Linked DNA regions of Homo sapiens. The protein of the gene in region 1 purifies or fractionates together with the protein of each later gene. This does not show direct contact. Each region holds a gene or a part of one and is shown in the gene's direction. Other genes may lie near its edges. The genes, in order: SPDYE4, MRPL45, CTSB, GMPS, SLFN11 and HBS1L.

Region 1 (4,790 bases):
ATCCTGAGACTTCCCCCAGAGGGACACAGTTCTCCTCTCTGCTCTGCTGCTCCCACGGCAACCCTGTTCCACTTCTCACCCTGACACAGGCTCTCTTTTCACAGGGGATCCTGTCGTTCAAAAATTCCTGGCCTGGGACAAAGACCTGAGGGTGTCAGACAAGGTAAGGTTGTTCTCCACTCAACTGTGTTCCTGCTTTAACACACGTCCTGGGGAAGGGTGCAGCGTCTAAACCCACAGTTTCTCTCCTCTCTCCCTCTACCATCTCCCACCTGCTGATTCCATACTCTTGGGCGCCCACATTTTGATTTTTATTTTTTCAGAAACAGGGTCTCGTTCTGTTGCCCAGGCTGGAATGCAGTGTTGCCATCATAGCTCACTGCAGCCTCAGCCTCCTGGGCTCAAGTGATCCTCCCGCCTCGGCCTCTCCAATAGCTGGGACTCCAGGCGTGAGTCACCGCCCCCAGCTATTCTAGGTCTTCTCATAATTTGTCAGCATCTCCCTCGGGGCTCTGGTAGCCTGTTGCATAGTTGATGGGTGGCCCCTGCCTCTGCACAGGGTCCTTTGGAATCCAGGCCCTGGGCCAGTCTTGAAACTCCTGACCCCTATCCTCTCAGATCTTTGGGACAGTCCTTTGCCCCAGCTCACCAAGACCCTCCTGACATTAGCAGCCCTAGACACTCTCCCTCCAGTGATCCCACTGGAGCTCATCATCATGGGAGCATCACAGACCTCCCTCCCTCCGACTTCCCGGATTTGCAGCTGACTTTGAACACTCTCCACCCGCAAGCCCCCAATGAGCATAGTCACCCAACACTGAGGTTCCTTCTGTGATAGACAACCGCGCCCCAGCCCCTGTTCCCTTCTCTCCACCATCTTCCTCTTCCAGGATGTGACCAACCTTTCTCTCTCTCTACTCCCTTCTCTCCATCAGTATCTCCTGGCTATGGTCATAGCGTATTTTAGCCGTGCCGGCCTCTTCTCGTGGCAATACCAACGCATTCATTTCTTCCTGGCTCTGTGAGTAGTTTGCTTCTTCCCATCTGTCAATATCCAACACCCTGGGACAGTGGACGAAGTGGGATTCCAACCTTCCATCTATTTTTTTACCCTACTTCTCCTCTTTACTCTGTATATAAAAACGATAAGATTATACTATGGTGTTCTTAGTCTGTTCTTTCTAAAAACAAACACAAATGCAGTTGACAAATAGTAGAATCAAACAAAAGGAAACATAAACCCGTCCTAAGGGGAAAGGAAAGCCGTGGACACGACCCTGCTCCCCAAGCAAGCAGCCATTTCTGGTTCTCTCGTCTCTCTCCTTCCCATATCAACACCAAATGCAATTTTCCATCCTCCTTCTCCAGGTTCCCATGACAGAGGCAGAAATTCAGGTCGTCCTCGCATAACACAGATCCATCATCAAATACTCCCTGCTGGGCATTCCTGCGAGTCCTGCCCCAAGCCAGGGGGCTTCCTAGTGCTGCCTGAATAGCTTTCCAAAGCACAGCTCCCACCCCCCCTTCACTGCCCACCTGAACAACCTCCTTAGCTGATTTGTCTCTAAACGGAGGCCCGGGTCCACAGGGCTAATTCAACCCTCTCTGCAGTCCTTCTACCACCAAACCTGCCCACCATCTTCATCTTTCCTTGTTTGCTTTCGCCACTCCTTCCAAATGCCCTCCACTCCATTTTGATTTTGTGTTTTCTGTCTGGGTGTCCTGCACACATGTGGATCTGAAGGGAATGACCCATTCCTTAAAGTCAGTTCAACCCCACAGCCTTTGCAATGCCTCCCCTGATCTTCCAGCTTCTGCACGCCCACAGCACTTTAGTGACATCCTAGGATAATGTGACATTTTGGATTCGTTTATCTGCCCTCCTTTTCCCCAAACCCATCAGAGTAGACCCCTGTTGAAGGCAGGGTCTTGTCAAAATATCAAAGTTTTTTGTTTTTATCTTTACCGGACAGAGACTTGCTCTGTCCCTCAGGCTGGAGTGCAGTAGCCAGATCATAGCTCACCGCAGCCTCCATCTCCTAGGCTCTAGTGAAGCTCCCACCTCAGCCTCCTGAGTAGCTGGGACTACAGGTGCATGCCACCACATCTAGCCAGTTTTTATGATTTTTAGTAGAGATGACGTTTTGCTATGTCACCCAGGCTGTTCTGGAACTCCTGGGTTCTCACCTCAGCCTCTCAGAGTGCTGGTATTATAGACATGAGCCACCCAATCAGCCAAAATATCAAAGTATTCCTGAAACACTCAGCACAATTCTTTTCATTTTGCAAGTGCTCATGTTATATTGACTCTATGGAATAATTCATATGGCATTTGCCTATAAGATAAATCTTTCCTTCTTTCCTTCATTCATTCATGTATTCATTTATTCAACAAAACCTTATGAAGTTCATCATATGTGCCAGGGAATAGGAAGGATGGGAAGGGAGAGTTCACAGCAATGCTTGTTGAATTAATGCACCAAGATAAACAAAGCCCTCTAGTGGCCTTTTGGTAGGTGAGAGATGATTTACAGAAACACACCAGTCAGTTCCTGTCCTTGGGGGCACTTATGATGCACGGGGGAAGACAGGTGTGTGCATACATGACAAGGAAGGGGGGTGTGGGAGGAACAGGGATGGGGACTAGGATGAGGTGACGTCATCTGTCTTGTATAAGGATGGCAGGACACATCCTTAGCATAAGACTTGGGTTGTTTTTAAATTCAGAGGGGGTCTTGCCATATTACCCAGACTGGTCCCTAACTCCTGGCCTCCAGTGATCCTCCTGCCTGGACTCCCAAAGTGCTGGGATTCCAAGCAAGAGCCACCACTCCCAGCTACCACTTGGATCATCTCCTTCCTGAAGGTTTGAGAGGCACCCTTAGCAGGTCTCTGTCCAGCGGGGCCTCCTGAGGAAGGCAGGGCTCTCTGCAGGGCGGCTGTTGGTGCTGAGCTGAGGAAGGTCCCCTGCCCTCCTCTCTGAGAGGCTGCCCTCAGGCAGGGGTCCCTCCTGGTGGGGCCCCTGAGCAGCAACCTGATCTCTCTCCCCAGCTACCTGGCCAGTGACATGGAGGAGGACAACCAGGCCCCGAAACAAGACATCTTCTCCTTCCTCTACGGGAAGAACTACTCCCAGCGACCCTTGTTCCATAAGCTTCGATACCAGCTCCTCTGTTCCATGCGCTGGAGGACGTGGGTTTCCCCAGAGGAGATGGAGGAGGTAGGTGGGGCCATATGAGGAGGTGGGGGTGGGGAGGGATGGGGTGGACTGGAGGCTGGAGGAGGGCAGAGAGGGGGCTTCCTGGGGAATCCCTGGCTTCTCAAGTGGTGTGTGTTTTTCCAGATCCAGGCTTATGACCCAGAGCACTGGGTGTGGGCCCGAGATCGCACCCTCATTTCCTAGAGCTCCGGGGACATGGAGGCCTGAGGTCATCGGCCTGAGGGAAGGTACGTGTGTATCCTCCAGGGTAAAGGCAGAATATTCTCATCTATAAGAAAATCCAAGGAACTCAACTGCTTGATCCAGCTTCAAGCCTGGTCAACATGGCGACACCCCGTCTCCACAAAAATACAAAAATTAGCCGGGCGTCCTGGTGGGCGCCTCTAGTCCCCACTACTCAGGAGCCTGAGGCGGAAGGAACACCAGAGCCCCGGAGGTCGGGGCTGCAGTGAGCTGTGATTCTGCCACTGCACTCCAGCCGGGACGACAGAGTGACACTCTTTCTCAAAAATGAGAATACTACCTAGGTCCAGGGAGGTTCATTATGGTTGATACACTTGAGTTACTGATTTGAGGAAAGGATTCAGTGAAGATTTGGTTGACATCTTGTGCAGCTAACCACATTTAGGACCAAGCATTAGACTAAAACATGAGAGATTAAGGTTGGGGATTAGGAATCTGGTCTGCTGGTTCCTGAGGTTGTCGTGTTAGACATGTTTGTAGCATGGTTAAAAGTTTAGATCTTAAGCAATATAAAGGGCCCCAAGTGTGATGAAGTCCAAAGCCACGTCCTCCAAGGGTGCTCTACTCCCTGGGTGGAGCCACCCAAAGTCCTTGCTATGAAGCAGATCACTGGGGCTAACCTTGGGTATATTAAGTGATTTTTGGAGTCAAGCTCACCAAAGTGTGAGTACCAGAATCAAAAATGATGGTTCAGAATCAGGGTTTACAATAAAGGGTTAGAGATAAAATCAGATTTATATATTGCTCTGAACTCTAGTTAGGATTGATGTGGGATGGGAATAACCTTCCTATCTAGAGATCTCCCTCCTTGAAGTGTGACATCCTCTCTCTCACTTCCAGAACACTGGGCCCAGGGGAGATGGGAATTTTCAGCAGGAAGTTTATCGCGACGCTAATGCCAGACACCAGGAAGGGAGAGAGGAGCCTCCTGTGCAGATCATCTAGAAGAAGCTGGACTCTTCTAGAAGGGGCAAAATAGATTGACCAGGTTTTCCTCCTAGGAGCCATGGAGGTATTTCTAGGAGTCAGTGGAGGGAAAGTGAGAAACCAGGGGTGTTTCTGGTTCCACCCCTTCCTGCGGCAAAACCTCCCTTTTCACGTTGCTGAATCCCAGCCTCCCCTGGGCTGGAAGCTGGAGTTCCTGTTTCCTATGGACTTGGTTGCCACAGTCCAGAGCATTTGAAGGCACAGCGCAGGCACTCAGATTGTTACGGAATTCTTTGTAAAATATGAAATTACTGCCATAGGATTTTAAGAGATAGTTTAATAGATACTGTACATTTTGTTGGTTTATTTTTCAAATGTTGGCCATAGAATTATTACTAGG
Region 2 (5,693 bases), about 30 Mb from region 1:
GGGTTTCACCATCTTGGCCAGGCTGGTCTTGAATTCCTGACTTTGTGATCCGCCCGCCTCGGCCTCCCAAAGTACTGGGATTACAGGTGTGAGCCACTGTGCCCGGCCTTGTTTTGTTTTTTTCTAGTGTAACATAGTTCTCTCTACATGGAAGTCTGTTTCATTAGTCTACTTCATATCCACAATCCTTCCCAATTTTACATTACTTCAATTTTATGAGTTTTTCTCAATCTTTCAACACTTTCTTAATTTTTTTCTTCCTTTATTACAGCTGGTATATTTGATGCCTATGTTCCTCCTGAGGGTGATGCACGCATATCATCTCTTTCAAAGGAGGGACTGATAGAGAGAACTGAACGAATGAAGAAGACTATGGCATCACAAGTGTCGTAGGTGTCTGAGACAATTGGGTATTGGTATTAGAATAACAATTTTTTGTTGCTACTTTATCCCAAAGAGACCTTTTTGGGTTAATTGGGTTGGGTGTCATTCTCTTAATAACATGATGGTATTTTCTCCTTTGTACTAGAGTCTGTATTTAATGCAGAATAATGTGGGCTTCCTGATTCTCAGCATCCCTGCCTTTATTGGTAATTTTTGTCATATCAGTTAGGGAGTTGACTTTGGAGTGTATAGGATCCTTTTTTAATCATATATTTAATTTTTTTTTTTTTGAGATGGAGTTTCGCTCTTGTTGCCCAGACTAGAATGCAATGGCACGATCTTGGCTCACCGCAACCTCCGCCTCCTGGATTCAAATGATCCTCCTGCCTCAGCCTCCTGAGTAGCTGGGATTACAGGCATGTGCCACCATGCCCGGCTAATTTTGTATTTTTAGTAGAGATGTGGTTTCTCCATGTTGGTCTGTTGGTCAGGCTGGTCTTGAACTCCTGACCTCAGGAGGCCCGCCTTGGCCTCCCAAAGTGCTGGGATTACAGGTGAGAGCCACCACGCCCAGCCCTTTATTTATTTATTTATTTATTTATTTTGAGACGGAGTTTCACTCTTAACTCACTGCAACCTCTGCCTCCCGGGTTCAAGAGATTCTCCTGCCTCAGCCTCCCGAGTAGCTGGACTACAGACGCATGCCACCACGCCCAGCTAATTTTTGTATTTTTAGTAAAGACGGGGTTTCACCATGTTGGCCAAGATGGTCTCGATCTCTTGACCTCGTGATCCACCCACCTCAGCCTCCTGAAGTGCTGGGATTACAGGCGTGAGCCACTGCGCCCAGCCGACCTGGCTAATTTTTAAAAGAAATTTTTGTAGAGACGGGTTATCACTATGTTGCCCAGGCTGGTCTCGAACTCCTGGGCTCAAGCAGTCCTCCCACCTCAGCCTCCCAAAATTCTGGGATTACAGGTGTGACCCGTCACACCCAGCCAGTCTAGCTCTGACTGTATCTATCTTTTTTTTTAAATTTGTACTGTTCATTGCAGAGCAGGGCTACCCCATAGGCCACTGTGCCCAGAGTAGCCGCTGTCACTATATGTAAATCATGTATAGGTTTATGTGCATAAGTATATTGAGTCAGTATGAATTCTTCACATGGCCATGACTTATTTCTCTACATATAGATTTTATTGGCTGGGTGCGGTGGCTCACGTCTGTAATCCCAGCACTTTGGGAGGCTGAGGTGGGCGGATCACCTGAGGTCAGGAATCGAAAACCAGCCCGACCAACATGGAGAAACCTCATCTCTACTAAAAATGCAAAATTAGCCGGGCGTGGTGGCACATGCCTGTAATCCCAGCTACTCAGGAGGCTGAGGCAGGAGAATCGCTTGAACCCGGGAGGCGGAGGTTGCGGTGAGCCGAGATCGTGCCATTGCACTCCAGCCTGGGCAACAAGGGCGAAACTCTGTCTCAAAAAAAAATAATAATAAAAAAGATTTTATCATATTACCTCCCTGCTTAGAACTCTTTTATGGCTTCCTGTTAACCAAAGAATAAAATCCAGATATCTTCAGTGGTATACAAAGCTTTTATAATCTGGTCCTTGCCTTTTTCTCCACCATCATTCTTTGTCCTTATTCCATTTTTCTCATCCTAAATTTTAGCATTTCCAAACTAATTGCCAATTCCTTGCCAGTACTGTACCATTCCTCTTTGTCTTTGCACATCCTTTCCTTTGCCTGAAATGTCTTTTTCCCCTCCTACTTTTTTTTTCTTCTTTTTTTGAGATGGAGTTTTACTCTTGTTGCCCAGGCTGGAGTGCAGTGGTGCAATCTCGGCTCACCACAACCTCTGCCTTCTGGGTTGAAGCGATTCTCCTGCCTCAGCTCCCGAGTAGCTGGGATTACAGGCATGTGCCACCACGTCTGGCTAATTTTGTATTTTTAATAGAGATGGGGTTTCTCCATGTTGGTCAGGCTGGTCTTGAACTCCCGACCTCAGGTGATCCGCCAGACTCAGGCCTCCCAAAGTGCTGGGATTACAGGCGTGAGCCACCACGCTGGGCTATCATGTTTGTTTCTAAGGCCTCCATGACTATTTTTGGTGCTGCCTTTGCTGTGATTGTAATTGCACACTTGTATTTATTTCTCCTAATACTCTGTACTGCAATGTTTCCTCTCATGTATTTCTCTCCTGGACTGTGAGCAGGGTCCATGGTGATGATGAACAAAGCACATACGGTTTTACCATGCAGTTCTCTTCTAGGGGAGGAAAACAGTCATTAAATACTGATCGCACACAAATAATTATAGGTGTAGTGAAGTAGGAGTGCCATGGGAGCATATGACAGGGAAAGATAATGGCCGGGCGAGGTGGCTCACGCCTGTAATCCCAGCGCTTTGGGATGACGAGGCGGGTGGATCACGAGGTCAGGAGATCGAGACCATCCTGGCTAACACAGGGAAACCCCGTCTCTACTAAAAATACAAAAAATTAGCCAGGTGCGGTGGTGGGCGCCTGTAGTCCCAGCTACTCAGGAGGCTGAGGCCGGAGAATGGTGTGAACTCAGGAGGCAGAGCTTGCAGTGAGCCGAGATTGCACCACTGCACTCCAGCCTGGGCGACAGAGCAAGACTCCGTCTCAAAAAAAAAAAAAAAAAAAAAGATAACTTGGTCTGGGAGATCAGAGAAGACTTGCCTGAGGAAATGATATTTAAAGTTGGGATTGTGGCTGGATGAGGTGGCTCACAACTGTAATCCCAGCACTTTGGGAAGCCAAGGCTGGTGGATCACCTGAGAGGTCGGGAGTTCGAGACCAGCCTGGCCAACATGGTGAGATCCCATCTCTACTAAAGATACAAAATTTAGCCAAGCATGGTGGCACATACCTGTAATCTCAGCTACTCGGAAGGCTGAGGCAGGAGAATCGGTTGAACCCAGGAGGTGGAGGTTGCAGTGAGCCCAGATTGCACCACTGCATTCCAGCCTGGGCAACAGAGTGAGACTCCATCTCAAAAAAAAAAAAAAAAAAAGTTTGTTTTTTTTTTTTTTTTTTAGAGTTAGCCAGGTGGAGAAGTGTGGTGAGGAATAGCATTCTAGGGAAACAGAACAGTACAAGCAAGGCTTTGAGGTTAAAAGAGTATAAAGGGGTGTCAGATTTTGTCAAATGCTTTTTTGTGTCTATTGAGATGATCATGTGATACTTGTTCTTTATTCTGTTGATATGATGACATATTAATTGATTTTCTTTTCTTTTCTTCTTTTTTTTTGAGATGGAGTCTTGCTCTGTTACCCAGGCTGGAGTGCAGTGGCTCCATCTCGGCCCACTGCAGCCTCTGCCTCCCAGGTTCAAGTGATTCTCCTGCCTCAGCCTCCCGAGTAGCTGAGACTACAGGTGTGCGCCACCATGCCCCACTGATTTTTGTATTTTTAGTAGAGACAGGGTTTCACCATGTTAGCCAGCCTGGACTCCTGACCTCAGGTGATCCACCTTCCTGACCTCCCAAAGTGCTGGCATTACAGGCGTGAGGCACCGTGCCCAGCCTTATTAATTGATTTTCAAATATTAAACCAACCTCACATCCCTGGGATAAATTCCTTTAACACACTTAAATTAATACTTTGATTAAATCAAATTCTCTATATTGTTATAACTTGGAAAATGCTGTTGACAGCTGAGTTATATAGTACATTATGAACACTTTTTCTTTCCTGCATAATATATTTTTTTTTCCTGAAGTGTAGTGTCTTAATTTGCTCATTTGCTTATGGAACTATGGGTTATGTAATTTCCTCTCTGTGCATTCAAAACATTAAATTTTTTTTTTTTTTTTTTTTTTTTTGAGAGGGAGTCTCACTCTGTTGCCCAGGCTGGAGTGCAATGGTATGATCTTGGCTCACTGCAACCTCTGCCTCCTGGGTTCAAGCAATTCTTCTGTGTTAGCCTCCCCAGTAGGTGGGACTACAGGTGTGTGCCACCACACCTGGCTGTTTTGTATTTTTAGTACAGACGGGGTTTCACCATATTGGCCAGGCTGGTCTCGAACTCCTGACCTCATTATCTACCTGCCTCAGCCTCCCAAAGTGCTAGGATTACAGGTGTGAGCCACCACGCCCTGCAACATTAAATATTTTATTAATTTCATCTTTTTCAAGAAATCCCTCCTGGAGTCTTCTTACCTGTTTTAATCTGGACTAGTTGCTCTTAAGGCCAACTGTACGTCTTAGGATCTAAGATTCCTCTTGCCTCCGTCTTCTTTTCTTTTTTTTTTGAGACTGAGTCTTGCTCTGTTGCCCAGGCTGGAGTGCAGTGGTGCGATCTCAGCTCACTGCAACTTCCGCCTCCCGGGTTCAAGCGATTCTCCTGCCTCAGTCTCCTGAGTAGCTGGGATTACAGGTGTGCGCCACCACGCCCAGCTAATTTTTGTATTTTTAGTAGAAATGGGGTTTCACCATGTTGGTCAGGCTGATTGCCTCCCTCTTACGTTGTATTCCCTGTTGCTTGGATCCTATGTCTTTATGTTTTCATAGTCTATTTCATTACTTTGGTGGAGCACATTTTCTAGCAGCTGCCTGAGAAAGGCTGCATGGTGGATAAATAAGATCTTGCAAGTCTAAAAAGAAATATTTTATTCTCCCACTTCATTTATAATTTGCCCAGGTATTTAATTCTGTGATAGAAATAATTTTTTCCTCAATTAAAAGTACTGCTCAAAGTCTGGGCATGGTGGGTCATGCCTGTAATCTCAACACTTTGGGAGGCTGAGGCAGGAGGATCACTTGAGCAGGAGTTGAATACCAGCTGGGCAACACAGTGAGACCTTGTCTCTACAAAAACTAAAAAAAAGTGAAAATTAGCCAAGCGTGGTAGTGCACACCTGCAGTTCCAGTTACTTGGGAGTCTGAAGTGGGAGGATTGCATGAGTCCCAGAGGTCAAGGCTGCAGTGAGCCCTGATGGCGTCACTGTACTCTAGCCTGGGTGACAGAGTGAGACCCTGTCTCAGTGAATGAATGAATGAATGAGTGAATGAATAATAAAAGCACTGCTCTGTTGTCTTTGTAATTACTTTTTATTTTATTTTTTTTTTGAGACGGAGTCTCACTCTTTCGCCCAGGCTGGATTGCAGTGGCGCGATCTTGACTTACTACAACCTCTGCCTCTTGGGTTCAAACAATTTTCCTGCCTCAGTCTCCTGAGTAGCTGGGACTACGGGCGCCTGCCACCACGCCCAGCTAATTTTTGTATTTTTAGTAAAGACAGGGTTTCACCATATTGGCCAGGCCAGTCTCGAACTCCTG
Region 3 (3,968 bases), on another chromosome or scaffold:
AACTGCTGAGGGCCTTCGTAGTGTCTGCTGTTTCAAGTGTACAGTAGTCATTTTGTCTGCAGGATGTGGGGTTGCTGTGGCTGACCTTGTACAATATTCCACTCATAGGTGTCTTCAGGCCTATGGAGAGCAGCTTGCGTGGGCTGGGCCTGCAGTACCTGGTTTGCATAGATGATTGGCAGGTGGGCAGCACGGGGAAGGACCTGTGAGTGGCCAACCTGGTTCAGGTGAGGGAGGTGGAGTGGGGCTTCTCTGCTTCCCCTGGTTCCCTGGAAGCCTCCAAGGCTGGTGAGCATCACTGCTGCCTCTGCACACCTGTGTGCTGGGTGGGTTTTCTGACAGGTTTTCAGTTGCTTCGGGGCTACAGCTGCAGGGAGCCTGCTCCATGGGACAGATGGGCCTCTGGTGCCCGTTCATCAGGGGACTGATGAGACCGAGGCCTGAGAGCCCTTTGGATTTTGTTTTTGTCCTTAATTTAATCATAAGCCAAGAATCTACTAAACACAGTTCCATTAGGGGCAAAGACGTAACACATCAGAGGCCACAGCAAGGCTGTGATTCATACTCAAAAAGGAAAGGTCTCTGGGTCACAACAGAGCATAGTTGAGGTCAGCACACTCCCACCCAGTGCAGGGCTGCTCCAGCATTGAGGTGTGTCTGGCAGGTTGAAGTAGGGGAAGATGAAACTCGCCGAAGTCTTGTTTTGTGGTTGCACTTAAGTGGTCAAAACTTCAGGAGCAACTGCCGTTATTAGCGGTGAGTGCCAAGACTAGTTTTTATAGAAGAGAAAGAAACAAAGTACTCTGGGAAGGTCTTACTGAGCCTTCACAGTCTCCCCACCTTTCCACTGTTCCCGTGCTCTTAGCCGCTCTGCTGGCCTATAAGGCACAGTCTTCATTTGTGGCTTCTGGCAAAATGTAAGCACTTGACTTTTGTTTTTGTTTTGTTTTGTTTTGTTTTTTTGAGACGGAGTTTCCCTCTTGTTGCCCAAGGTGGAGTGCAATGGTGCGATCTCAGCCCACTGCAGCCTCCACCTCCTGGGTTCAAGCAATTGTCCTGCTTCAGCCTCCCGAGTAGTTGGGATTATAGGTGCACAACCACCACGCCTGGCTAATTTTTTGTATTTTTAGTAGAAATGGGATTTCACCATGTTAGCCAGGCTGGTCTCGAACTCCTGACCTCAGGTGATCCACCTCCTTGGCCTCCCAAAGTGCTGGGATTACAGGTGTGTGCCACTGTGCCCGGCCAACTTTCAATTCTTTAGAGCTGACTATGAGAGGAGCCAGCAGTATAGCCACAGCACCAACGAATGAGGAAGAGCAAAATACTGCATGACAGCTTTGCTAAGAATTCTTTCACTTTTTTTGTCTATCAGCCAGGAGCTAGCAACTTGGCTTATTTGGAAATTTTAAGTGTACATATCCTGTCTCCTTAAATCCTTTACAGATTTAAAGTGCAGTCTACCTGAGGGCTCTGTGACCATGTAAGAAAGCTTTTTCTTTCTTTTTTTTTCTCTGAGACAGAGTGTTGCTCTGTCGCCCAGGCTGGAGTGCAGTGGTGTGATCTTGGCTCACTGCAACCTCTGCCTCCTGGGTTCAAGCAATTTTCCTGCCTCAGCTTCCTGAGTAGCTGGGACTACAGGCAGCACCACCATGCCCGGCTGAGTTTTGTATTTTTAGTAGAGACAGGGTTTCACCATGTTGGCCAGGCTGGTCTTGAACTCCTGACCTCGTGATCCGCCTGCCTCAGCCTCCCAAAGTGCTGGGATTACATGCGTGAGCCATTGTGTCCGGCCTTTTTTTTTTTTTTTTTTTTTTTTTGAGACAGAGTCTCGCTCTGTTGCCCAGGCTGGAGTGCAGTGGTGTGACCTCAGCTTACTGCAACCTCCGCTTCCTGGATTCAAGTGATTCTCCTGCCTCAGCCTCCCAAGTAGGTGGGATTACAGGCACCCACCACCGTGCCTGGCTAATTTTTGTATTTTTAGTAGAGACAGGAGTTTCACCTTGTTTAGTAGAGACAGGCTGGTCTCGAACTCCTGACCTCAGGTGATCCGCCTGCCTTGACCTCCCAAAGCGCTGGGATTACAGGCATGAGCCACTGTGCCTGGCCAGAAAGCCTTCTTTATTGAGCTTGGTGGCAGCCCAAAACTGATTCTTTAAGGGTGTCAGGACTTAACACCTCCTGTGACTTAGCCGCACCTCCTCTCCTTTGACTTTCATTCCACCTCCTTCCAGGATCGCAAGGTCCCTATTTGTCCTGGAAACGGCTTCAAGGTAGTCTAGGGTGCCGTTTGCCGGGGGAGGAAGGTGCTCTGGTTGATAGAGTCGCCTGGCCGCACACTCTTTTTGGCACATAACAACGTTCTACAGAGCCGGGGTGGAGCGTGCTTTCTCATAAGTGCTCTGCAGGTTTGGAGAGAGAGGATATGAGGAGCACCCTTTTCTGTTTTTTTTAACCCAAAGATTAGCTTGGAAAAGGGGCAGAGGGGTGCACTGGAACTCAGGTCTGCCTAAGCAGCACAGCAGACCAAGGTCTAGAGATGACATCTGCTCGCAGCTGTTCTTCCACCAGCCCGCATCCTGGAAAGGGGTCTTGTGGCACACAAGAGTTCACATCCTTCCCTCGTGAAATAAGGACTTTGTGTTCATCATCTCTTGTAAGAAGCAGAGCAGAAAGCACAGAATTAAGAAATAAAAGGGAAGTGGGTGCCTATATAAAGGGAAGTGAAAATGGGTTGCTGTCCCATGCAAAGACCCTGGAAAGCTGTTAACAGCTCAGCTTGTCACTTTCACCATCTGCATTTGTCCAGAGTGATTGAGATTTGCGTTGTTGTGGAGAGAAAGGCGCCTGTTGCACAATGGAGTGAGATTGCCACTGCTGTCAGGACCTCTGTGTTTGGCTTGACACTTTTTGAGTTCTCAGCAGTCTCGGGACCCTCAAGAGTGGAAGCATTTTTGGATGTTAAATGCTGGGGTTAATTGAAGTTAAGAGCTTGTTTTACTGGGCATGGTGGCTCACACCTATAATCCCGACACTTTGGGAGGCCAAGGCGGGCAGATCACTTGAGTCCAGGAGTTTGAGACCAGCCTGGGCAACATAGCAAAACCCCATCTCTACAAAAAATACAAAGCTGGGCGTAGTGGTGTATGCCTGTAGTCCCAGCTCCTTAGGAGGCTGAGGGGAGCAGATCTCTTGAGCCCAGGAGGCAGAGTTTGCAGTGAGCCATGATCGTGCCACTGCACTCCAGCCTGGGCAACAGAGTGAGATCCTGTCTTAAAACAAACAAAAAAAACAAACTTGTTTTCATTTAGACTCTTCCTGGCGTTGGGGACCTATTGGAATAGGTTTAGTGTGAACTGAGAGCTAGAAGTGTTAGAGGAGAGAGGGAGGGAACAGAGCCCGCTGGAGCGAGTGCCCTTCCTACCTTATCACTGCATGCCAGGCATGTGCCGGCGCTTTGGTCCTCCTCATTTCATTCTTGACTGCCACCTGAGACACGATGGTTACTAGCTCCATTTTATAGGTGGTGAAACTGAGGCTTGGGGAAGGTCAGACCCCAAGGGTGCCATTTAGTCAGTGGCAGAGCCAGATCCAAATGCAGGTCTCCTGACTCCAAGTGCAGGGCTCATTTTATCGTCCGGTTGCAGCACGCTGGCGGCCCCTTGAGCCCCAACCTGGATACCATAGGGGAGGAGCAGAGAAGCCAGGAACACCACAGCCCTGGGCCAAGGTGCGGGGCTGAAAGAACTTCCCAGCGCTCAGCCTGGGACTAGTGGAATGGGCTGGGCCCTGGGGCTGGCAGCGGTGGCCCCGGGGAGCCTGGGAATGAGTAGGGAGCACAGGGAGGTGTGGGAGGGCCTGGGAACCATGAAAAGGAGGGCGGGTGCAGGGAAGTCGCCTGCTAGTGAAGTGGCGAGGGGGCCCTGTGGGACTCCAGGGAATGGCCACGGCAGGTTGTCCTCCAGGAG
Region 4 (5,693 bases), on another chromosome or scaffold:
ATATAGTTAAGTCTATACACTCATTAAGATTGTTATAATGTGAAAGGGAATAAGATCTCTAAACTGGGGCACATGAGCATAAAAAAAGAAGGTGTGGAAAATTTAAATTTATAATAATTGCTGCAAAATAAAATATTACATACAAAAAAATTGTAGATTTACACAATACAATTAGTAAGTAAATGGCAAAACTCCTGTGGCAAGAGTGTTCAGATTACTGTCTTCTGTACATTATACACAGGGACATATAACATCTCTTTCCTGCATGTGTTACACAAATACCCCATATTTCCCAGTGACCCAGCTTATAATGGCCTCGAGGCTCCTGTGCATCTTGCAAGGTGAGGAGTGGCTGTAACACAACTGGGAGGTACACTGAGTAGCCGGCAGGAATAGCAACTTCAGATATTTCTCCTGTCATCACCCAAGACTAGATAGAGTTAGCTATCCTTAATTGCCTGTGTCCAAGAGTACTTGATTTTATTAGAAAAGAGTAAGGAAGGATGTGTTACCAGTATTTGGCATTCAGACTGAACGAGAAGTTAAAAATGAGAACTGTTTACTATGCTTGCAACCCACACAACACTAGACAAAGCCATAGCCGAAGGTGGTATTAGATATAAGGTGAAAGTTTAACAAACCCGTCCTATTTTACTTTAAGGCAGTTATTCATAGTATGTTGTTAAAAAGAAAAATCTGAGACAAATGTTAAGCTGGGTGGGATATCGGACTAACAGATGTACATCAGGAGAGTCCTGGGCAGACTGGACCATATGGTCACTCCATTTATAGAGCACATATTGTTCTGAGTTTGGCTCTGATTTCTCCCCAGTGATGTGTATTTAAAATTTGGCTAAAATTTAAGTCTAGTGTGTATACATTAGCATTATTTTTCTGAGTTAATTATATAATAAGAGTATTATTCTAAAATTCTTGAAAACTGAGTGTCATTAATTACCTGTGTTTTAAAAGTGGTGTGAGCCAGCAGCACTGAACCTGACCCTAAGGTAAAATAATCTTCTCTAGTCTGCCATAACACTTGCAAGGGATGTTTCCCAAACCTTTAAAGCTGCCTGGACATGTGAAGTTTTCTGTTTAGTTACTCCCGTTTGTCACTGGAAAAACAGTAACCTTTTAATCTCAAAACTCACAGCGGTCCATGTAAATTTAATTTCTACCTCATTTGCAATTTGGAGAACGAGTCTCAGTAATTCTTCTGAATCCTATTATGAATGTAAATTTAGGACTCCAGATTTCTAAAATTCTGCTTTGGACAAATTTTGGATCAACGATCTCTGATTAATTTGGGAAATTTTAGATGAACAAAAGTACCTGTAGATATATCATTATTTTGATGTTATTGGTAGCAGTAGAACTTCATTATACTTATTATTTGGCAAGCAAATTAAAAGAAATTTTAGTCAACATCCATGTCCTCAATCTGGATTCTACCATTTACTTTTCCTAAAAAAATTTTTATAACAGCTTTATTGAGATATAATTGACATACCATGTACTCTGCTTAAAGTATCCAACCCCATAGTTCTTAGTGTATTCACAGATTTGTACAACCATCACCCCCCATTTGTACAGTCAAAAAAACATTCTCATCCCTCCTCCCAAAAAAAAACCTCTACCCTTCAGCAAGGGTCCCCATTTTCCTGCAACCACCGCTCCCTCCCAGTCCTAGTCAACCACAAATTCATTTTCTGTCTGTAGATTTGCCAATTGTCTTAGTCTGTTGGGGCCGCTAAAACAAAATACCAGAAACTGAGTGGCTTATGAACAACAAAAATTTCTCACAATTCTGAACGCTGAGAAGTTCAAAATCAAGGGACCTGCAGATTCAGTGCCTGGTGAGGGCCCACTTCCTGGGTCATAGAAGTGCTTGATGCTGTGTCCTCACCTTGGGGCCTTTTTTTTTTTTTTTTTTGAGACAGAGTCTCGCTAGTACAGTGGCGCGATCTCAGCTCACTGCAACCTCCACCTCCTGGATTCAAGCCATTCTTCTTCTTCAGCCTCCCGAGTAGCTGGGCATGCGCCACCATGCCCAGCTAATTTTTGTATTTTTAGTAGCAACGGGGTTTTGCTATGTTGACCAGGCTGGTCATGAGCTCCTGACCTCAGGTGATCCGCCTGCCTTGGCCTCCCAAAGTGTTAGAATTACAGGCATGAGCCACCGTGCCCAGCCCCTAGGGCCTCTTTTATAAGGGTACTAATCCTATCCGTGTGGGCTCTGCCCTCATGCTCTAACCACCTCCCAAAGACCTCACCTCTTAATATTATCACATTGGTGATTAGGTTTCAACATATGAATTTTAGGGGGACACAAACATTCAGACCGTAGCACCTATTTTGGACATTTTGTGACTAGAATCTTAAAATATATGGTGTTTTGTGGCTTTCACTTAGCATAATGCTTTCAAGGTTCATCTTGTAGCATGTATAAGTACTTTATTCCTTTTTATTACCTGCTAATATTCCATTGTATGTATACCACCTTATATTTATCCACTTATCAGTTGATGAACATTGGGTTGTTTTCACTCTGAATATTATGAATAATGCTGCCATGGACATTTCTGTATAAGTTTTTATCTAGACAAAAGTTTTCATGCTCTTGAGTATAAACCTAGGAGTGGAATTTCTGGGTCATAGAGTGACTCCGTTTAACCTTTTAGTGAACTGTCAGACTGTTTTCCAAAGCAGCTGCAACATTTTATATTTTTGTCTGCTGTGTGGCAGTTTATGTCAGGATTCTCCAGAAAAACAGTAGGCTATAGATAGAGAAATAGATAATAGATATATATATAGAGAGATATATGAGAGGAAATTTGTTAGGGGAATTGGCTGACGCGATTATGGAGGCTGAGAAGTCCCACGATAGACTGTCTGCAGGCTGGAGAACCTACCAAGCTGGTAGCATTACTTAGTGTAAGTCCAAAGACCTGAGAATCGGGAGTCCATGGTGTAATTCTCAGTGTGAGTCTGAAGGCCTGAGAACCTTGGTGGGAGAGGGATGGGGGGAGGGTGATGGGAGAGTGGCTGCTGGTGCAAGTCCTGGAATCCGAAGGCCATATCCTGAAATTCTTATATACAAGGGCAGAAGGTGTCCTAGCTCCAGAAGGGAGATAATTTGACTTTCCCCTGCCTTGACTTTGTTCTGCCCTAGCCTCAGCTATTGGATAATGCCTGCTCACATTGGATGAGGGTGGATCTTCCTTTCTGTGTCTACTGATTCAAATGCCAGTCTCTCCTGGAAACACCCTCAGAGACATACCCAGAAATAATCCTTTACTAGCTATCTGGGTATTATTAGTCTGGTCAAGTTCGTACCTGAAATTAGCCATCACAATTTCTCCACATCCTTTTCTGCACTTGTCTTTTTTTTTTTTTTTTTTTTTCCTGAGACAGAGTCTCTGTCGCCCAGGCTGGACTGCAGTGGTGCTATCTCAGCTCACTGCAACCTCCACCTCCCCAGTTCAAACGATTCTCCCACCTCAGCCTCCCAAGTAGCTGGGATTACAGGCATGCGCCACCACACTGGCTAATTTTTGTACTTTTAGTAGAGTTGAAGTTTTCCCACGTTGGTCAGGCTGGCCTCGAACTCCTGATCTCAGGTGATCTGCCTGCCTTGGCCTCTCAAAGTGCTGGGATTACAGGCATGAGCTACCACGCCTGACCCACTTGTCTTTTTGATTATAGCCATCAGAGTAGCTGTGAAGTGGGATCTCATTTTGGCTATGATTTGCATTTCCCTAATGACTGGTTATGTGCATTTTTTCATGTGCTTATTGGCCATTTCTGTATTTTCTTTGGAGAAATGTCTGTTCAGGTCTTTTTTGCCCTTTTTTTTTTTTTTTTTTGAGGCGGAGTCTCGCACTGTTCCCCGGGCTGGAGTGCAGTGGTGTGATCTCAGCTCACTGCAACCTCCACCTCCTGGGTTCAAGCAATTCTCCTGCCTCAGCCTCCTGAGTAGCTGGGATTTCAGGCGCCTGCCACCATGCCCAGCTAATTCTTTTGCCCATTTTAAAATTGGATTATTTTTCTTTTTTATTGAGTTTTAAGAGTTTTTTTTTTTTAAGTCTAGAGATGTTTCTTATCAATATGATTTGCGATTATTTTCTGCCATTCTGTAGATTATCTTTTTACACTTTCTTAATGGTGTTCTTTGAAGCACCAAAACCTTTAATTTTGAGGCTTAATTTATTTCTTCTTTTGTCACTTTTGTTTTTGGTGTCATCTAAAAAACTGTTGGCCTCATTCAATACATATCACAAAGATTTGTGTAATTACCTATGTTTTCTTATAAAAGTTTTGTAGTTTTTGCTCTTATTTATGTCTTTGTTTCATTTTGAGATAATTTTTGTATCTTTTCTAAGGTGGGTTTAATCTGACTTAGGGTTTTTTAACAGACTGGCTCTTAGATTTGGATGATTGTTGGCCTTGTTATTGACCATGGCAGAGCTTGACCATGAGTGCCCCTGAAGGCTGAGGGTAACAGTTGCTCATTGTGGTAGTATCTTTTTGTATCAGTTTTGTATCTTTAGTGTCAGTTTGTGGAGAGAGGTGGTAGTTTAAAAAACTCACTAATAGGTGTTTTGTTTTGCTTGTTTTTATTGTGGTAAAATGTACATGCAGTGAAGTGCATAGATCTTTAAGTATGTAGTTGAGTTTTGACATATATATGTACTCATGTAACCATCACCCCAATCAAGATATAGAACATTTCTGTCACTCACAACATTCCCTTGAACAATAAATAGAATCAGAAGCACTCTGGATTTAACAAAGTTGTTTTTAAAAAATGCAAACTTGGTATTGGTGCAGTATTTTTAAGTTAAAACTTTTTTCAGTTATTAAGAAAATCTCTGTCGGTTTGTCTGTTAGGCATATTATCTTGCCTAAGGTGGTACATCTTGGGTTAACCACGTCTGGCTCTCTAGAGGTTAATAGTGCTTCTCAGTGGTTTCTTTTCTCTGATGTCTTTCCTTCATTAGTTACCCTCTTATTAAAAAGAAAAAAATAAGTGTGCGTTTGTATTTTAATGTCTAAAGCCAAAGAATCAGTGTAATGTTTATCATAAAGACAAAGTCACCGAGAGATGACCATAATTATAGACATTTGGTACAGTTTTACTTACATTCTTATGTATTTCTGTTAGCAAAGGCAGAATCAAAATATGTTATTAATATTTATTGTATATATTTATGGGGTACAATGTGATGTTTTGACAAAGTATGTTAATAATTAAGAGCCTGCTATGGATGCTTTGATATTAGTTTTTTTTTTTTTTTTTTTTTTTTTGAGACGGAGTTTTGCTATTGTTGCCCAGGGCGGAATGCAATGGCATGATCTCGGCTCACCACAACCTCTGCATCCCGGGTTCAAGCGATTCTCCTGCTTCAGCCTCCCAAGTAGCTGGGATTACAGGCGTGTGCCACCATGCCCGGCTAATTTTGTATTTTTAGTACAGACAGGGTTTCTCCATGTTGGTCAGGCTGGTCTCAAACTCCCAACCTTAGGTGATCTGCCCTCCTTGGCTTCCCAAAGTGCTGGGGTTACAGGCGTGAGCCACTGCTCCTGGCTTGATATTAGTTTTTTAAATGTTACTTAAGCTGGTGGTAGAAACATCTTCACAAAGGCATATGATGATACTAATTTTTAAAATTGTACTGTGGCATTTCAGTTAG
Region 5 (5,602 bases), about 27 Mb from region 1:
AGTTAATCAATTAGTTAATTATAATTAGTCATCTTAATCAATAGGGTTATTTCTCTTCCTCTAATTTATCATTCTTTTCACATACAGTCCCACCAGGATATTTGCGATATACTCCAGAGTCACTCTGGAGGGACCTGATCTCAGAGCACAGAGGACTAGAGGAGTTAATAAATAAGCAAATGCAACCTTTCTTTCGGGGAATTTTGATCTTCTCTAGAAGTTGGGCTGTGGACCTGAACTTGCAGGAGAAGCCAGGAGTCATCTGTGATGCTCTGCTGATAGCACAGAACAGCACCCCCATTCTCTACACCATTCTCAGGGAGCAAGATGCAGAGGGCCAGGACTACTGCACTCGCACCGCCTTTACTTTGAAGCAGAAGCTAGTGAACATGGGGGGCTACACCGGGAAGGTGTGTGTCAGGGCCAAGGTCCTCTGCCTGAGTCCTGAGAGCAGCGCAGAGGCCTTGGAGGCTGCAGTGTCTCCGATGGATTACCCTGCGTCCTATAGCCTTGCAGGCACCCAGCACATGGAAGCCCTGCTGCAGTCCCTCGTGATTGTCTTACTCGGCTTCAGGTCTCTCTTGAGTGACCAGCTCGGCTGTGAGGTTTTAAATCTGCTCACAGCCCAGCAGTATGAGATATTCTCCAGAAGCCTCCGCAAGAACAGAGAGTTGTTTGTCCACGGCTTACCTGGCTCAGGGAAGACCATCATGGCCATGAAGATCATGGAGAAGATCAGGAATGTGTTTCACTGTGAGGCACACAGAATTCTCTACGTTTGTGAAAACCAGCCTCTGAGGAACTTTATCAGGTAAGCAGTTGGATCTTACGTCTCTAAGTATTATTTAATCTGGGTTTAATTTTTTCTGCTAAGTCACCGTCTTTCTTGAGAATTGAGTGGTAAAATGATCTGTGGTAATGTACTGTGCTCGGAGGAACATGATACAATTATTTTCTCCCCTTGTTTTTTTAGAGAAAACCTGAGTGTGTTCTTTTAATTTTTACAGTGATAGAAATATCTGCCGAGCAGAGACCCGGAAAACTTTCCTAAGAGAAAACTTTGAACACATTCAACACATCGTCATTGACGAAGCTCAGAATTTCCGTACTGAAGATGGGGACTGGTATGGGAAGGCAAAAAGCATCACTCGGAGAGCAAAGGGTGGCCCAGGAATTCTCTGGATCTTTCTGGATTACTTTCAGACCAGCCACTTGGATTGCAGTGGCCTCCCTCCTCTCTCAGACCAATATCCAAGAGAAGAGCTCACCAGAATAGTTCGCAATGCAGATCCAATAGCCAAGTACTTACAAAAAGAAATGCAAGTAATTAGAAGTAATCCTTCATTTAACATCCCCACTGGGTGCCTCGAGGTATTTCCTGAAGCCGAATGGTCCCAGGGTGTTCAGGGAACCTTACGAATTAAGAAATACTTGACTGTGGAGCAAATAATGACCTGTGTGGCAGACACGTGCAGGCGCTTCTTTGATAGGGGCTATTCTCCAAAGGATGTTGCTGTGCTTGTCAGCACCGCAAAAGAAGTGGAGCACTATAAGTATGAGCTCTTGAAAGCAATGAGGAAGAAAAGGGTGGTGCAGCTCAGTGATGCATGTGATATGTTGGGTGATCACATTGTGTTGGACAGTGTTCGGCGATTCTCAGGCCTGGAAAGGAGCATAGTGTTTGGGATCCATCCAAGGACAGCTGACCCAGCTATCTTACCCAATGTTCTGATCTGTCTGGCTTCCAGGGCAAAACAACACCTGTATATTTTTCCGTGGGGTGGCCATTAGGAAGAACTCCAAATCAAAATGCTATGTAAATGTCTATGGGTGACAGTCTGCTGATGGTAGAAACCTTTCTTTTTAGTTCACAAGTCAGAGATTTGGACGGAGCTGACACAAAGAGTTTGGAGCTCCCCCATTTCTGGCTCTCCTTTCAGGGGTTCCTTCCCCAACCCTTTCAGCAGCGGTGGCTGCCCCCCATTCTGACCCCTGACTCTTCCAGCCAGAAAGATGGTGGTTTTCTAAAGGAACTTTAGCTGTCCTGCACAATGCCGATCTGTGTCTTGCATTTTGGGTAAAAGCCATAAAAATAAGAAACTCAGCCTGTGGCCTTTCTTTCTTCCAAGGCTGGGCTTCTTTTTTTAAGTGACTTCATGCAGTTTGTTGCTTTTAAAAATTTGTCCAGAATCGTTTTCTGCAGAAGCATGGTCTGTTAGGAGCTTACTGGCCGTAGCAGAAGCAATTGTTTCCTGAATTCTTGACATTTATCTTTGCTGTATTCATTTAGGGCTTGGGAGAGTCCGAAGATAATTCAGTCACTGTCAGATTAATAATTTTGTCAGGACAAAGAATACCGTTATGATTATTTAATCCTTTAAAATTGTGGTCTCCAGAGCTTGTTCTCAGAATGGCCCAGACCAAGCCTTAATTGTGATAGTGAATATTAATGGTCACTTTAAGGAGAAATTATAGGCCAAGATGAAATGAACATAAACCTGTTTGCCCTGGCTTTCAGTGGAAGATGATATTAGAGACCAAAATCTGGTTCTGAAGGTGTGTATCAGCCCTAAGGTGAACCAGACTTGGGAAAGATTGTCTTTAAAAATCAATGAGTTTATGTTTTAACTTCTCAGCTTAGTTCTATGCATTGCTCTATAACACACCTAGTTAAGTTTTATGTTATTCTTGAACTGTGATTTTTTTTCTATTTACTTTCATGGTTTGGTGGGCCATTGTTATGGACTGAATGTTTGTGTCCCACCCTTCACCCCCAAATTCCCGTGTTGAAGCCCCAACCTGCACTGTGGAGCTGGGGCTGCTAAGGAAGTAATTAAGGTTACATGAAGTCATGGTGGGGCTCTGATCTGCTAAGGTTGGTGTCCTTATAGGGAGAGACCCCAGAGAGCTTGTTCCCTCCCTCCCTGTGCATGCAAACAAGAGGGCATGGGAGCACACAGAGAGATGGCAGCCACCTACAAGCCAAGAGGAGAAGCCTCACAATCAAACTCTCGCTGCTGGCGAGAGTCTTGGACTCTGTCTTGGACTTCCAGCCTCCAGACTGTGAGAAACAAATTTCTGTTGTTTCAGCTTCTCAGTCTCTGGTGTTTTGTTATTGCAGCCTGAGAACACAGCTGTACGATTATTTGTCAAACAGAAAACACTGATACTTAACAATGCTAATGCAATTATTTATTTGCTTTTCAGTCTCTACAAAACGTTCTAAAACACTAATCTAAATATTAACAGTAAAATATTTGCATAACTAATGGAAACTAAGAAATCATATGACCAATATTTCACTTATTGGTAATCTTACTCTACTGATTTCCCCCCAGACTGTGATTTTTGAACTTCCTTGCCTTTCTCCTGTCTTTCTGTGTTTATTCATGGAATTCCAGTTATCTGGGCTTGAAATTGCAGGCTCTCCTAACTTAAGCAAAATCTGACAGATCAGCAAAATGAGATAAATGTTTCTTTTTTCTTTCTGACTGCATTAAATCAGATACAACTCAGCATTAAAAAGCTATCTTTGTAAATGTTGTTACTAATAAATTAGTCTTATAAGATCCCTGGACTTTGGAGTTGTTGCAATGTCTTTGAGAGTAATTCTTTAAAAGTCTAATTTCGACTGGTTGTATCTCTTTATGATTTATTGCCCCACTAACAATATTTGAAACAATATAATATTTTAAAATGTATAAATAATTATGAATTTTTGTTTAGAACAAAGAGGATTACTGATATTTGTTTCCCTATGAATGGCAAAAGGTTTAGCTTACTACTGCATTTCTGTTTTAAATAAAAAGTTGAGAGTTTGTGTCTCATTAAACTGAAAAAAATGGTCTTGTAAAATAAGTGCTTAAATGGGGGAAAAGGAGAAGACTGAGGCCAGTGACTCTGTGAGAGGGCCAAAACGAGCCAGTAAAAGATTAAGCAACATTAACTTTCAATTTTTTTTTTAAGAGACAAGATCTCACTATGTTGCCCAGGTTGGAATGCAGTAGTGCAATCATAGCTCACTATAGCCTCGAACTCCTGGGCTCAAGTGATCCTCCTGCCTCAGCCTCCGAAATTGCTGGGATTATAGGCATGAGCCAGTGCACTAGACTCAGTTGGGTTTGGATGGGTGCCTGCCCATCTCTGCAATCTGCCTCTAGACATCTGGGACCTACTTCACTAAAGATCTGAAAATCTACCCAGCCATTATAAAATGAAACAAAATGTTTTTATATTTTAAATTAACTTTTTATTTTAGAGTAGTTATAGAATTACAGAAAAAGTTACAAAGATAGTACAGAAAGTTCCTGTGTCCCCTTCATTTAGTTTCCTCTTTATTTTATTTTATTTTATTTTATTTTATTTTATTTTATTTTATTTTATTTTATTTTGACAAGGTCTTGCTCTCTCACCCAGGTTGGAGTACAGTTGGGTGATCACAGCTCACTGCAGCCTTTAACTCCTGGACTCCAGTGATCCTCTCACCCCAACTAGCTGAGAAGCTGGAACTGCAGGTGCATGCCACTACACCTGGCTATTTTTTTAAAAAAATTTTGTAGAGGACGGGGTCTTATTATGTTGCCCAGGCTGGTCTCAAACTCCCAGGCTCAAGCATTCCTCCTGCGTGGGCTTCCTACAGTGCTGGGATTACAAGTGTGAGCCATTGCAGTGGCTATTTCCCTGTTTTATTACTGTATTGTTGTGATGCATTCATCACAACTAAGGAACCAACCTTACTTAGTACATGACTATTAACTAAACCCCACATTTTATTTGGATTCTCCAGTTTTTTTTTTTTTTTTTTTTTTTTTTTTGAGACGGAGTCTTGCTCTGTCGCCCAGGCTGGAGTGCAGTGGCATGATCTCGGCTCACTGCAAGCTCTGCCTCCGGGGTTCACGCCATTCTCCTGCCTCAGCCTCCCGAGTAGCTGGGACTACAGGCGCCCGTCACCACACCTGGCTAATTTTTTGTATTTTTTTAGTAGAGACCGGGTTTCACCGTATTAGCCAGGATGGTCTCGATCTCCTGACCTTGTGATCCGCCCTCCTCGGCCTCCCAAAGTGCTGGGATTACAGGCATGAACCACTGCACCCGGCCTGGATTCTCTAGTTTTTCTCTAATGTCTTTGCCTACTCCAGGATCCCATCCAGGACACCATACTACATTTAGTGGTCATGTTTCCTTACACTCCTCTGACCTGTGATGCTTTATTTTTGATGACCTGGACAGTTCTGAGGAGTACTGGTCAGGTATCTACAAATAAAATGTCCTTCAGTTTGGGTTTGTCTGATTTTTTTCTCAGACTGGGGTTATAGGTTTTCAAGAGGAAGACCACAGGAATGAAGAGGTATTCTCATCACATCACATCAAGGGTATATGCTATCAACATGCCTTATCACTCATGATATCAACCTTGACCAGCTGACAGAGGAAGTGTTTGCCAGGTTTCTCTACAGTGAAGTTACTTTTCCTTCCTCCTATGTTGCTAAGTGCAGCTCACACTCAAAGGGTGAGGATTGAAGCTCCACTTTCTTGAGGGGGCCAATGTCTATATATCCTACAAAATAATTTATCTATATAAATTATTTGGAATTCTTCATTT
Region 6 (5,693 bases), on another chromosome or scaffold:
TTTTCTCTTGAGTATCATATATATAATATATTCTTTGGATTATTTCAACTTAGAAAATTGCATATGTTTAATATTTGGGTTGGTTTTTATGTAAGCAAAATACTTTTTTACCCTACCTATTAAATTAGATGGTATAGGTTTAGGGAGGTCATAGAGGAGTGTGGAAACTGATAGGGAAGAATTTGTCCAGCAAGCATCTGTAGTATGCCTTTGTTACCAAATGCTTGAATGTTTTGGAATAAATTTGCAAGTTTCCCAATCAAAAAAGTTGAAAATTATTGGATCAGATAACTTTGGGGCTGTAGTTCTGTGATTTCTATTATGTTTTAAAAAGTACATTGTTGCTTTTGCAAACTTGGTGCAGTTATGGTAATGGTGAATCTTTTAATGTTTTAAAAAATGTTGTATTAAGTTTCATAAGTCAATCTTTTTAATAGGAGAGTGATGTAGGTTTTATTCCTACAAGTGGTCTCAGTGGTGAAAATCTAATCACAAGATCTCAGTCAAGTGAACTCACAAAATGGTATAAAGGACTATGTTTATTAGAACAAATTGGTAAGTATACTGCCATTCTAGCTTTAATGCATTATAAACTTGGTATTAATTATTATTTAGAGTTCTTTATGGGAGAGAGTCACACGTATGAAAAAGCATAGGATTTGTAGTCGGAGGAACTAAGTTACCTGTTTTGTCATCATGTGCAATACTTAACCTGTCTAGTGCTCAGTTTTCCTCAGTTTATGAGGCTAGTGCCTGGTTTACATATCTTATAGACTGTTGTTAAAATTAAATGAGATTAACATTCATTTTATAAGCTGCAACTATTACTTGGTTGAATGTCCCTTATCCGAAATGCTTGGGACCCAAAGTGTTTGGGGTCTGAAATTTTTTTTTTGGATTTTGGAATATTTACATTATACTTATTAGTTGAACAGCCCAAATTCAGAAATCTGAAATCCAAAATGCTCCAATGAGCATTTCCTTTGAGCATTATATCAGTGCTCAAAAAGTTTCAGATTTTGGAGCATTTCAGATTTCAGAATTTTGGATTTGGGATGCTCAATGTGTATATTAGTGACAGTTAAGTTGCTATTAGTAATTATAAAAAGTAGTTATTTTCTAGGAGAAGTGGGATTATAATGAGTTTATTGAAGTGAGTCAAAAATTTAATTTTAAATTAAACCTTGCCTTTTGCAATTTCTTTTTTCCAGATTCCTTTAAGCCTCCCCAGCGATCTATTGACAAACCTTTTAGATTATGTGTGTCCGATGTTTTCAAAGGTAAGTGCTACCTTTGTAGTGCTTCTTCAGTATAGCCCCTTTTCCCCATTCCCTCCTAACCTCCTTTCCTGGACTAAGTTATGACAGTATATTGCCTTCAGAGTCTCTCCTCTCCATGCCCAAGTAAGGATCACTGTCAGATTAATCTTAAAATGCACAGATTTAGTCACTTAGCTTCCCTGTCCAGGAAAACCTTCAGTTTACTCACCATTTCTCATCTTTCAAGCATAAGAAAACCTTGCCTTTTGTCTTTCTAACTTTATAGTTTTTTTTTCTCCCATTAGATTCCTTTAGTTTTCAAATCCTTCAACCAAACTGGATTGTTTATTGTTTCTTAACCACACAGGATGTGTTTATTGCCACATGTCTACCCGTGCTTCCCTGTTGTATTGTTCTTTCTCTTTACTTGTCCATTTCCTCCCCATCTGTAACAGTCTGGGTCCAGTTAGGAGTTAGATACCATACATAGGTGAAATGGGAAATGTAATATAAAGAATTATTAACTATGATAAAAATGCAACTAAAAGATATACAGAAACTTTATAGATAGGGCTGAGGAAGGACCAACGTAGAAGAGGTTCAGAGCTTGCTGGAAGAGATGATATATTAAATACCTAAGAATATATCTAACTTAATAAGGGCAAGATCCTATATAGAAGACTATAAAGTGGAAATACAATTTAAAAACTCAATAAATAAAAGGATATAAGATTTATTATTACAATAATAAAAACTGTAAGGATGTCATTTGTCCTCTAAATCTCCATTGTCACAGAGCCAGCAATGCAGAGTGAATGTGGAACTGAGCAGCAGTAAATTGGTAACCGGCGTGCTTACCTGCGCACATGCCCTGACGCGTCCCTCTGTATTCTCTGTATCCTCTGTCATTGTGCTTTCATGCAGCATTATAATTTTTTCTATGCTGTCTGTTTATCCCACTTAGATTATGAACTCCTTGAAGGCAAGTACTATCTCTTCTTTATCTATATCTGCGGCCCTAGCCCAGTGCCTGGCACATAATACATTTAACACATGAATAAAAAAATGAATGAATGAAGGTGCTTTGAAAAAATCATGCAATGAAATCAAAATTTATCATTATCATTATTAGCTTCCAGTGTTCTAGTAATAGAGGAAATATGCTAATAGTTTCCAAGATGCCCATTGTTTATCAAGAATACAAGAGGTGGTTACTTTTCTTTGATTAACAGTGTTTGCTGACTGTACTTTCTCACCTTCTGTTCCCCCTTCAGGCTGCTTCCTGGCTTCCGCCTACGCTGCTCTCCTGAGTGTGTTCCTCCTGAGGTCATGAAATGACCTCTTGGTTGCCAAAGTCAATATACACTTTCAATTCTATCTTACTTGAATTTGGCATTGGTTCTGATGCTGGTAGCCACATCCACCTTGAAACTCCTCCCTTGGTTTCTGTGACCTGCTTTCTCCTGTTAACCTGTCTATTTCTCTGACCTGTCTATCTCTGACCTCTCTATATCTTCTCTATGGGCTCCTCATTCTCTGTCTTTTAAACAGTGTTCTGCTGCCTCAGTCCTCTTCTTAGTCTTCAAGTTCCTTTTGAACTGACATCCATGAGTGTCTCTACCTTCTGCATCTTGATGCTTCCCAAATCTGTATCTCCAACCCAAACCTTTTCACTCATTCTCCACACACTTGTCTAAGCACTACTGGACATCTCTCCTGGGAGAGTGTTCTTTTAGGGGTACCATTCTCATGGAATGTGGTGTGATTGGTCCCCCCGGAATGCAACTTCTGCATGTGTGTGTCTCATAGACACTTCAGATTTACCAAGCCTAAAATGGATCTTGTCCTTAGTTTCATATCTCACAGTTAATGCATCATCATCTCACATTTTCCCCTTTCTGTCATTAGTCTTCACTTTCCTTACCACTCCAAACTTGTTATTCCTTATTCCCGAATTCTTGAGTTTATTCCCTTTCTGTAGTAAGTTTGTGCATTTGTATCAGCCTCTACTCTAAGACAGAAATACCATCACCTTACTTCTCCGGTCACAATATTTACTGGCTTCCTATTACTTAACTGCAGGATGAAATTTAAACCCTAAGCGTGATTTATGAGACCCCTTTATTATTTCTCCCTTGCCTATCTCTGTTGCCTCCTGTCTTACCTTTTCTTCATTATTCTATATGGTCCCCTCCCCATGGCCCCCACAAGTGACACATGACTCTTAGCCCATCCCACATTTGGTTATGCCTTTGCCCACACAGTTTCCTGGGGCAGCAGTGTCTTCCTTTTTCTCCCTACTCATGCATACAAGCTACCTAATAAACACTTATTCCTTCTTCAGAGTGCCAGATGTCTATTCTCACCATCATGGATTCTTTGGTGCACCTTTGTGTTTCTATTGTATATTTTACATATTATTTGTCTCAGGACAATGTAATTGTTTCCATCTTTCTCTTCACTAGTATAATATCTTTATGGGCAGGGACTTACATTTTTATTTTTTTTTATCCCCAGAGTTTAGTATAATATCTGGTACTACGTATTTATTATTTCTCAATAAATATTTGAGAAAGGAATGAACCTTTCTTTGGTAATATGAGTATTTTTATTTGCAAAAAAAAAAAGTAAAGTGTGGTATGCCATATTTAGTAGAGATGTTAATTCTGAAATGATTATTATTTAATGTCCATTGAACTACTAGTTTTATATGACTACTTGAGAACTAAGTATAGTTAACGGTATTAATCATCAGATAACATTGCTGTATGAACCATAAGATTTTGGTATGTTTTGCAGATCAAGGATCTGGATTTTGCATAACTGGTAAAATAGAAGCTGGTTATATCCAAACTGGTGACCGACTACTGGCAATGCCTCCTAATGAAACTTGTACCGTGAAAGGTATTTATCTGCAAGATGCTTTTGCTAAACAAGCCTTAAGTTGAGACAGCAGATTTTTAAAAAGTGGTTTAGTTACAACTCCAAAGTAAGTAACCTCTTACTGAAATTGTAACTGACTGTCAAAATGATACTGACTGTTGAAGATTAAAATGTGAAAACATTAAACGATTTTTTTCTGTTGTGATTGTGTCTGTATATATATGTACATAAACATTCTAACTGTAGTAGCATTCTATTTTTGACACAGATCTGAGAAGCCTGGTTAGGATTTAATCAGATATGTATAGATACCTCACAGATGTATTTGGAATAATATTCTGTAGCAGAAATTAAATCTAGTCCCAGCCTTACCCTAACTAGTCAGTGGCAAAGCAGCCTTCTACAGTCTGTTACTTTGAAATGTATGTTTCAGAATAACTATAAATTAACAGCTTTGATCATGTTTATGCCAAAAATGTAGGTATATTTTATAGGAAGATATAAGTAACATTCAAATGGAGAAAAACCCAATGTTGAAAAGAGAAATTGAACTAGTTTAAATTGCCAGTCACTGTTTCTGCATATAGATCTAATTTTTTTCATAATGACTGATAATTGTTTCTGTCTTCTAATATATACACACATATATATATTTATGTATATGTATACATGTTATATGTTACATGTACATGTATATTATTTTCCAGATTTTGACTAAAACTTTCTAATTCTATACCTCTTTTATTCTGGCTTCCAACTAAGCCTCTGACTTCTGAAGATCTGTTTTATACTATAAAATAATATTATTTGTAACCATTTTAAGCTGAAGTATAACCTATTGGAAATGCAAAAATTTTTTAGATTTTAGTATTTTTCCCTCTGTTACTCTTAATTTATAGTTTATATCTAGAGTTGTACCTGACTAGTTTATCAATTTGAATGTATATTTTTCTTGAATTCATATGCTCTCTTTAAAAGAAGATTTCTTGAAAAGTTTAAGAAATTAATATCTATTGAAGTTACATGGTTTAACCTATATTTAAAGATGAATAAGGGAATGAAAATCAGTTATTTCCATTTGACCTTTTTATTTGTGCCCACTAGAGATCATGAAATTTCAGTTTTGATAAAAAGTAATATGCACTTTAAAAATAGTGTCATTTTCTATAGATCTGTTCATTGTGTGCAAGTACAGGTCTCTGCTTTTGTTTTTTAAAGTGACAAGAGCTATAATACTTTTGAAACACGATTTTTTTGGTATGTTAATGATCTTTTTTGAGAACAAGAATTTTTTTATGATTAAGAGCCATAAATTAAAACCATGATCCTAAAGTTATCACAGACCTTGAGGTTGGCTCCCTTGTAACCTCTAAAATCCTTAGTCATCTCTGAAAGTCTCACATTCTTTACCCTCCTCTTCTCTGTACTTTCCACACAGAGAAACTCTAAAGTATTATCTTTTATCAGTGTAAGTCTTATCAGAAGCCCCAGGGAAGAACCACCCTACTTCTTGAGAGCCAGTCTTTTAACTCAACAGAGAGGTTCTCCTTC

Evidence for each region.
Region 2: the proteins of SPDYE4 (region 1) and MRPL45 purify together in Homo sapiens (affinity purification with mass spectrometry, with the first as the bait; one large-scale study listed by BioGRID). This does not show direct contact.
Region 3: the proteins of SPDYE4 (region 1) and CTSB purify together in Homo sapiens (affinity purification with mass spectrometry; one large-scale study listed by BioGRID and IntAct). This does not show direct contact.
Region 4: the proteins of SPDYE4 (region 1) and GMPS purify together in Homo sapiens (affinity purification with mass spectrometry; one large-scale study listed by BioGRID and IntAct). This does not show direct contact.
Region 5: the proteins of SPDYE4 (region 1) and SLFN11 purify together in Homo sapiens (affinity purification with mass spectrometry; one large-scale study listed by BioGRID and IntAct). This does not show direct contact.
Region 6: the proteins of SPDYE4 (region 1) and HBS1L purify together in Homo sapiens (affinity purification with mass spectrometry; one large-scale study listed by BioGRID and IntAct). This does not show direct contact.

Annotation. Positions count from the first base shown.
Region 1 is NC_000017.11:8,751,751-8,756,540, reverse strand, and holds part of SPDYE4 (speedy protein E4), read left to right. Parts: intron 1-104; coding exon 105-163; intron 164-935; coding exon 936-1,021; intron 1,022-3,051; coding exon 3,052-3,220; intron 3,221-3,343; coding exon 3,344-3,403; 3' UTR 3,404-3,447; intron 3,448-4,303; 3' UTR 4,304-4,790.
Region 2 is NC_000017.11:38,299,080-38,304,772, forward strand, and holds part of MRPL45 (large ribosomal subunit protein mL45), read left to right. Parts: intron 1-271; coding exon 272-389; intron 390-5,693.
Region 3 is NC_000008.11:11,857,620-11,861,587, reverse strand, and holds part of CTSB (cathepsin B isoform 1 preproprotein), read left to right. Parts: intron 1-108; exon of another isoform or gene 109-227; intron 228-3,647; exon of another isoform or gene 3,648-3,730; intron 3,731-3,968. UniProt on the Homo sapiens protein: Thiol protease which is believed to participate in intracellular degradation and turnover of proteins. Cleaves matrix extracellular phosphoglycoprotein MEPE. Involved in the solubilization of cross-linked TG/thyroglobulin in the thyroid follicle lumen.
Region 4 is NC_000003.12:155,875,883-155,881,575, forward strand, and holds part of GMPS (GMP synthase [glutamine-hydrolyzing]), read left to right. Parts: intron 1-5,693. UniProt on the Homo sapiens protein: Catalyzes the conversion of xanthine monophosphate (XMP) to GMP in the presence of glutamine and ATP through an adenyl-XMP intermediate.
Region 5 is NC_000017.11:35,348,545-35,354,146, reverse strand, and holds the end of SLFN11 (schlafen family member 11), read left to right. Parts: intron 1-87; coding exon 88-811; intron 812-1,007; coding exon 1,008-1,791; 3' UTR 1,792-3,842; downstream 3,843-5,602. UniProt on the Homo sapiens protein: Inhibitor of DNA replication that promotes cell death in response to DNA damage. Acts as a guardian of the genome by killing cells with defective replication.
Region 6 is NC_000006.12:134,980,928-134,986,620, reverse strand, and holds part of HBS1L (HBS1-like protein), read left to right. Parts: intron 1-437; coding exon 438-555; intron 556-1,211; coding exon 1,212-1,280; intron 1,281-4,058; coding exon 4,059-4,163; intron 4,164-5,693. UniProt on the Homo sapiens protein: GTPase component of the Pelota-HBS1L complex, a complex that recognizes stalled ribosomes and triggers the No-Go Decay (NGD) pathway.